2 linked regions of the Homo sapiens genome follow. The protein of the gene in region 2 purifies or fractionates together with the protein of the main gene of each other region. This does not show direct contact. Each region holds a gene or a part of one and is shown on either strand. Other genes may lie near its edges.

Region 1 (4,195 bases), on a different chromosome or scaffold from region 2:
AAATTTTCAATGTCAATGTTCTGAGTGGGATTCACAATAAATTTAACCTACTACTAACAATGTTCCATGTGTATAAATCAGAAATGGCTGAAAACACAGTCTGGGGCTGCTTAGGAAATAGAGACCTGGAAGTTCTAGTTTTCGGTCAACGTCAACACCAACAAGGTATCCAACTAATGTCGAATTTGCAGTACTTTGGGGTTGGGCTTAGGCATAGATTTACAGGCACCTATGCAGTAGCTTGTATCTAGTTGAGTCTTCACACTGCAGAGATTTGAGGGGTTGCCCCCCCACCCTTTGGGGAAGATTTCCAAGGAAGGACATGCCCCTCTCTCACTCAAGTCTTGTTCTCAAGAAATTCTCACACCATTTAACCTGAATGCTTTTTGGATCTTTTCATTTTGAGCATTGAGAAGTTGTTTCTAGTTTTAAACACTTGTATGGAGAATTCAAGGGGAAAATGTTTGAATGGGGACTTAATTTAAACAGTTCTCTCCTGTGCTTCCATTTCAAGTTCCGGAATATTATTTGAAAGGGCAGGAAGCCTTCCTCTCAGTGCGGGTTAGCGCGTCTCCCCGCTCCTCCAGAATCTCCACGGAGCAGCACACCACACCGCAGCACACCGGGAAAGCGATCCGCCTCTGTCCTTCTCACCTCCTCGTTCTGATAAGCAGTCACCGCTATGAACTGGGTCTCAGGGAAGCAGTGGCTGGTGATCATGCGCTGTGGACCCCCAACTCTCACTATGTGGATTCGAGGCTCATACTTATGCAAGGAGTTCAGCATGATCTGAGGGAGACAGATACAGGATTGGTGGCACTGAAAGGCCTGCGTTAAAACAGCAAAACATCCATTTCTCCAGGATGCAGAAAGTCCTCTGGATCCCAAGAAAGTGTCTCTGCTGTTGAGGGAAGTGGGGTTCCACCAGGGGAGGCTTCTCCGCGGTTTATATGTGCTATTCCCACAGCTTGTTTGGAAAAGGGATGTGAGATGCTACACACCATTAAAAGCAATGAATGCTCATCACAAAATCCTTTCACCTGGTGGAATAAAGTACTAAGGCTTTCAGGAAGGCTATGGTCATTTTTAAAAGACTGAGCTTGTTTGCAACTTGCCTAACCTGGGGTCTTCCAGGAACAATCCCCGACTAAAGAATGTTCTTTAGAAAAGCACGACTTTACAAGTTTGTTCCGACTCCACGCAGTAAGTACTGTGGCGCATGTTTAAATTTAAATGCGACTTTGCCATCAAGGCTGATATCTTTTCCACCCCCAGGAGAGTTTAGGGCTAGACAACGGAAGTTCCCCAAAAGCTCCAGTCCTTCAAAGGGGAGTGCTCCCGCTCCCCGTTCGCCAGGCGTGGATGTTATCAGCTTAGTATAAACAGCGCTAAAGGCCTTATTAGAGAAGGCTGTGGCAGTTTCTCCAGGGCAGACGTCGCCTCCCGTTCAAGCAGCGTCCCTTCCCACAACCCCCGTGCAGAAGGCGCAGCGCGGCCCCCTCCTCGCTGGTCCCAGACCTGGCGGGCTCCTCACACCTACCTGGCCCCCTCCGTTGAGCTTGTTGGTGAGCTTGACTTTGCTGAAGGAGACGGGAGCCTTCATCCAGTGGGCCCCGAAGTTGGGCGAGTCGGGGTGGATGTAGACGCAGCTGGGCGCCTGCGGCTCCGGCTTGCCCCCCGGCACCCATTCCCCGTTCACGTACTTCCAGCGGTGGTTGTCCGCCGCCACGAAGTCCAGCAGGAAGGAGTACATGGCGTTGGGGTCCAGGCCAGACACGTTCACCTTCAGCACCGGAAACATCCTCCTGGAAAACACGGGGCGGGCGCAGGAGGACCCCGACACTGACCAGGTAGGCCGGAGGCAGAAGCTGGGCACAGAGGCCTCAGTTATTTCGGGGCACAGAGGAGCCCCCTGGGGAACGTCCGAGGGTGACTCCCAAGCTCCCCCTTCCCCGAGCCCTGCCAGGTCCAGGTGGCCTCCTCACCATCTCCACGGCCTCGGGAGGGAGGGGAGGAGAGGACCTGGCGAAGGGTTTCAGTGCAGGAGGCCACATCCCGCGGGGACAGGCGGGGACCAGGGCGCGCCTCGCGGGTCCCGGGATGCCTCCGAGGTCGGGACACCGAAGTGCGCGTTCCTCCTCCCCAAGCTTCCGCGGAGAAAGCCCCAGAAGAGGGGCTTGTAGAAATGCACTCGAGGGAGTTAACCAGAGCGGGAACAAACACAAAGCCCTCCTCCAGGAGAAAAAGGGTTCGACCTCCGGGAACTTGCCAGGTCCCCCAGGCTGCCCAGGCGCTGGAGAGCGCGGCGCGCGCGGGCTCCGGACGCGCACCCACCTGCCGTTCTTGGTCACGATCATCTCATTGGTGAGCTCCTTGAAGCGCAGCCACAGCTCGCTCTCCTCCAGGCCCACGCGCAGTTCGCGCTCTGTGGGGTCGCCCTTCTCGCTGCCCGCCTGCAGCTCATTCTCCACGGCGCTCAGCAGGTGGTCCACTCGGTACTGCAGGCTCTTTCCCGCGCTCTCGGTGCCAGGGGAGCTCATCCTCCCGTCCGGCTCCCCTCCCCGCCGTCCCCGAAGCCCAGACTCGCTACCTGAGATCCACCTTCCCTGCTCTTGGCCGCCGCCCTTCCGAGAAAAGGGGCCCCTTGGACCGAGACCTGCGACGGCTCCCGGGTCCCGGGTCCCGGCACAGACCCGGGAGGAGGGCGCGGACCAAGACTTGGGGGGAGGGGACGGGGGCAGAGGGGTGGGGAGAAGTTATTCCACTTGAACTCCCCAAGGCTCTACTAGTGTAGGTCTCTGGGGACCGAAATTCAGTGCCCTCCCCATAAATAGAGCCGCGGCGGCAGCGCTGGGGTGCTCGGCGGATTGGGCCGCGCACGCTTTGAAGTGCCGGGCAGCCTCCCATTGGCCGAGAGCGGCCATATCAGACCCAGCCGGGCGGGTCTGGGAGGCCGGGGGCCAACAATGGGCTCCCGCACGCCTGTTTCATGTAAATCCGGGGCCCCAGCCCTGCGAGCCCCGGCCCAGCCCCTACACCCCCGCCCTTCTCCAAATGTTTGCACCTCCATCAAAGCGGCGGGGCAAGCCCCGGAGGAAGGTAAGCTGGACGCCCCGGCCTGCCCCAGCCCGCCCCAGCCCGCCCCAGCCCGCACTTCCGCGAGGGGCTGCCCGGCAGCCTGCGATGCTCCCTGATTCCCGCGCGGGGTCCTCCTCGCTTTCCCAGCGCGCCCGGATCCCGCAGCCGCGCCAGGCTGGAACGTTCGCGCGGCCTCACCTGTCCCCGCTCCAGGCGCGCCTCCCTCCCCTCCCAGGGACGAGCGCATTTGGCCGGGCTTTGGGATGCGCCGCGCTCGTCTCGCCGCAGTAGTAGTGCTGTTCTCGCGCCTCCGATGCCTCAACTCTCCAGTCTGGCAGTTTCCGGTGCACCTGTCCCCACACGTCCCTCGCCCACGGAGCCCCAGGCGGCGTTACGCACACCCAGGATCGTGGATCAGCCTGCCCCGGCGTCGGGTGTCCCCGCGGCTCTCACCATCTGGAAAAGGAAGGTCCGCGCGCAGAGAGGGAAATGGACGGAAATAAGCAAAAGCAAAACAACCCCTTCTGAGAAGTGTCCTCCTCGCTCTCTTATAAAAACAGGACTTGTTGCCGAGGTCAGCGCGCGCATCGAGTGTGCCAGGCGTGTGCGTGGTTTCTGCTGTGTCATTGCTTTCACGGAAGGTGGGAGAAGGTCGGGGCTGGCGGGGTGGTCCGGACTAGTGGGACTCGGGGCGCTTTCCCCGCCCGGCCCAGCGCCAAGCGGTGTCGGCAGCGGTTGTTTTATTACCTTTCGGTGAGAACTTACGCGAGGAGAGCGAAGGAGAGGTGACAATGAGCAGGAAATAGTTCAGTGGGGTCTCTTTAAACAGTAACATTCCTCCTAAAACGGGAGCCCAGGAAGGGGGAAGGAGGCAGAAGCTCCCCCTTCCAAGGCCTGGCTTTGCGCTTCTGCACACCTCGCCCATTCGCTGGACGAGGGCCTGCCTCGGGTAGCAGCCTCTGTTTCCCGGTCTCCTGAGCGGGCACCCCAGCCCCAACCCCTCTAGAGAAAGCCTGCGCATCGGGTGGGGCAGCGAGTTCAGAGGAGTCTTGCGCCCTAGCAAGGGGGCTTTCCCGCGGACATGGTATCTGCGCCCCGCGCTAAGTCTCCCCTGCCC
Region 2 (4,003 bases):
CAGGTGATCCACCCACTCGGCCTCCCAAAGTGCTGAGATTGCAGGAGTGAGCCACTGCACCTGGCCCACAGAGGGTAATTTTTTTTAAGTAGTTGAGAAGCTAGAGGCAAGGGGGCTGTCGAAATAATCTGCATGCAGAGTCATTGGAGCTATGATTGAACGTGAAGATGACAGGCCCAATTTTAAAAAGTAATAAACCTAGGATGAGGGTTGAAGAGACGGGGTAGAGTGACTTTAAGATTATAAGCCTTGGAGGGACCAGGAGAAAATGGCAGCTGTCAAACACAAGGGGAAACTGAGTCAAGCTGAGGCATTCTTGTGAAGAAAATAATGAGTTCTGAACAACCAGTCCAAAAACTAAAAACAGGCCTGGCAAGAAGGCATAGGGATGCAGACCAATGGAATGTGCAGGCTTGGAGAGAACACAGGTAAAAACGAATGCGGGAACTCTGGGGTGGGAGTGTGGGCTTAAAACGTCATTGACAAAGTGGCGGGGTACCTTCAAATGTGAGAGGTGCTGTCAAAACCATCATCAAGGTTAACAAGGACATGTCCTTAGCATGGAAGTCAGAAAGGACAGTATGCTGATGTGTCTCTCCCAGGCTGTCAGTCATGGCTCCTCAGAGCTTATCCCGAATTCTCCCAGAATCCTCAAAAGTTACCAAAGGCAGAAAAGATGTGTTCCTCCCATGAGTCCAGCTTTGAACCAATGTCTTCAGAGAGAGGGGAACAGGTTTCAAAATTCTGACCTTGGGAGCTAGAGTCAGAGATGCCCCCTCCAACCCCGTTTGGTTCGGGCAGGCAGTTCACATCTACCTCAAGAGGCAGCTGGGGCTTCAGACATTTCGTTTCAGTTCCAGGAGCACAGTGGTTGAGGATAATCTCCGGCCTAGCCAAAGGTTGGAAGGATTTCCCACTCTGACGCCGAGACTTGGCACGCCTGTTCTGGAACCATACCTGGAAGAGGGGAGAAAATAAAAGCTGCTTTTGGTTGGAGTTTTTTATGCTAACATTATGTTCACAGTTCATACTGGTAAGTTCCAGTTTAACATCCCCTGGCTTCCTCTCCAGAGCCTTGTCTTCAGAAAGCACTTGGGTTGACGATTAGAAGTTCAGAACACCTGGCTTTCCTTGCCTCCCCATTCCCAGATGGAAACATTGGAATAATGCCTAGTTCTATCTACTCTTTAGTTAGAGAAATTTTCATGAAAAATGGGGTCACAAAAATGGAAGCACTTAGAATTCTTAGAAAAAAACTGCATTAAATTATGAAGAAAACCTGTTTTTTAAGGTCTGCACTCCCTTGTCAAACTAATCAAGGAGGTATTTTGCTCATGCCAGCTGTTGAGACTGACAGCTGTATGACCGCCAGGGGTGCAGAGAAAACAAGTCCACTCTCCCAGTGTTTAAATGAGGGCTGCTACTTAAAACTGCGCTTGGACACCGACCACGGGGCTACAGACAGACAAAAAGGCAGGCTTCTCCTTACCAACTCTAAGATTCTGATCTAAATTACTTTAGATAATAAACACGGCCGGGCGCGGTGGCTCACGCCTGTAATCCCAGCACTTTGAGGCGGGTGGATCACCTGAGGTCAGGAGTTCGAAACCAGCCTGACCAACATGGTAAAACCCCGTCTCTACTAAAAATACAAAAATTAGCTGGGCGTGGTGGCTGGCGCCTGTAATCTCAGCTACTCGGGAGGCTGAGGCAGGAGAATCACTTGAACCTGGGAGGCGGAGGTTGCAGTGAGCCCAGATCGCGCCATTGCACTCCAGCCTGGGCAACAAGAGTTAAAACTCCATCTCAAATAAAAACTAAATAAATAAAAATAAACACACCTTGCACTAGATTTTTCAAACTGAAAACAAGCTCCAGGTGCTTCTCGCTTTATCTCAATTCGCTACATCCTTTCAAATCTAATCCCAAAACGTAACACTTGCCAAGAAAGTAGCATGGGGGTAACTTGGCGAGCCAGCCTTCCCCGTTTTCAGCTACCATTCTCACGCTCAAAGCCAGAGGAAAACCCCAACTGCCCCTCATCTGTGTCTTCTTCCCGGATAAAGAAAAAGTGTAAAACTTCTTATCTTCCTGCTGGGAATTACTTTCTGGCCATTTCAGGGGACCGGCTAGCCTCCTAGGAGCCCTTATTATATTTAATAATGAGAGAAATCGTTCAGTGCAGGCCTAAATTATTTCACACAGGCCTCGCAACCACCCTATGCAGCAGGTGCCGATATCACCCCCTATTTCAGTCTAGTACGCAGAGCCTCAGGGGAAGCACCGTGCCTGCAACGTCCCGGGTGTGGCCTCAGGAGCCCGCAGTCCAGACCTAGAGTCCGCAGCGCCTCCGCTCCAGCGCGCACTTGCGAACGCAGCGGGCCCTCACCTGGATCCTGGACTCGGGGAGCAGGGTGAGCGCGGCCAGGCGCTCGCGCAAGTGGATGTCGGGGTACCGGGTCCGGCGGAAGACGAGCTCCAGCAGCTGCAGCTGTTCGGCGCTGAAAGACGTGCGCTTGCGGCGCTGCGACGCCGACGGGGCGGCCGCGCCTTTGGGGGGCGCAGGCGAGCCCAGGCTGGCGGGGGGCGGCGGGGCCGGCCCGGGGTCCCGGCCGAGGAAGCCCGCAAAGGTCGCTGGGCCGGGGCCCGCGGGCGGCGCAGGGAGCAGGGCTGCCGCAGGGCTCGGGGGCGGCAGGAGCGCCCCGCCGGCGTGGGGGGCCCGGTACGCTGGAAACGCGGCGCCCTCGGCAAACTGGAGCGCACGGGACTCGGCTGTGGCCATCGCTCCGGAACCCAGCGCGCCGCTCGGAGGGGCGCGGGCCGCACTTATACCCTCCCGGGCCAGGGGCTGGGAAGGCGGGGCGGTGCGATCAAAGGTGGGCTCGGGGAGACCCGTGTCTCCTCCGGGTGCGAGCCCGCCCCCGGCCCCGCCAGACGCCGGGGAATAATCGCTTCCGCCGGCTGCGGGATGCAGGAGGGAGGCGTGAACTTGGGTCCCGGCCCCCTCCGTGTTCTTCCCCGCCCACCCGCCCGGACGGCGCAATCCACATCCCCGAAGGACTATTTGCCTGGGAGGGGCAGCCCGGAGGGGCCCGGGTGCGCGGGCCGCAGGCGACAGAACTCTCTTCTCCGGGTCAAATCCCCGTTAAGAGCGGCGGAAGCACCTTGCCTGGCCTGTGCCTTACATGGCCTGGGCCTTGAGCCTTGCCCTAGTCCCGTCTGTCCTCATCAAAGCTATTTATTTACCACCCCTGCTATGTGCTAGACCCTGTACCAGGTTGGTCAAACAGCCCGGCCCCTGTCTTCTGCAAGCCTCCCTAACACATCCTGAATCCAAGCGGGGAGGGGGGTGAAGATAAAGGATCCAGGGGGCAGCACATTCCTCCTGATTAAATGGGTGGGGGGAGTGGGGGGGTCTGGCTGGAATGTCCATGGGCCCACCAATAAAGATACCCTAGGTAGGGCGGGGTTGGCAACGTGCCCCATTAGCAGAGGATACGGCGCAGTTTGGCCTTTCTGGAGATACTCAACAATGCTTAAGACCCGTCTATTGGATGGGAGGAGATGAAAGCCACCTCATGAAGTTTCCACGCGCCCTGAATCATCATTCTTTCCTCTGCCCCTTGGGGCTCTGAAAGCTCCCATTTTCTCTACTTTGTGCTATGGTTATGGTTTCTCTATCTGCTAGATATAAAGTCTTAGCAAGCAGGAACCCACCTCTCCCTTTCTGAGTTTATTGAGTGTCTGCTTTGTACACCTATTCTGCGTGAGGCGCGGTGCTAGGCCCCTTAGTGAATGTCTGTCGAATTGGATGTCACTGAGCTCTCCTTATTGAAAGAGAAACCCATGGTCCACTATGGGAACTGCCCCACCACAGTGCAAGAACTCAAGAGAGGAACACAGAGGCCCAGGTCTTTTTGCCCCCAGCACCTGAGCGCTGATTTCACCGGGATCACTCACTGTGGTCGACTCAAAGGGAGATCTTTATTGGGAGGATCTTTCA

What was found. Proteins that work in one complex are often made in the same cells at the same time.
Region 1: the proteins of MIXL1 (region 2) and TBXT purify together in Homo sapiens (pull-down; one study listed by IntAct). This does not show direct contact.

What each region holds. Positions count from the first base shown.
Region 1 is NC_000006.12:166,165,052-166,169,246, forward strand, and holds the start of TBXT (T-box transcription factor T), read right to left. Parts: upstream 2,801-4,195; 5' UTR 2,541-2,800; coding exon 2,335-2,540; intron 1,806-2,334; coding exon 1,541-1,805; intron 790-1,540; coding exon 655-789; intron 1-654. UniProt on the Homo sapiens protein: Involved in the transcriptional regulation of genes required for mesoderm formation and differentiation. Binds to a palindromic T site 5'-TTCACACCTAGGTGTGAA-3' DNA sequence and activates gene transcription when bound to such a site.
Region 2 is NC_000001.11:226,222,461-226,226,463, reverse strand, and holds the start of MIXL1 (homeobox protein MIXL1), read right to left. Parts: upstream 2,801-4,003; 5' UTR 2,783-2,800; coding exon 2,390-2,782; intron 982-2,389; coding exon of another isoform or gene 958-981; coding exon 652-957; 3' UTR 1-651. UniProt on the Homo sapiens protein: Transcription factor that play a central role in proper axial mesendoderm morphogenesis and endoderm formation.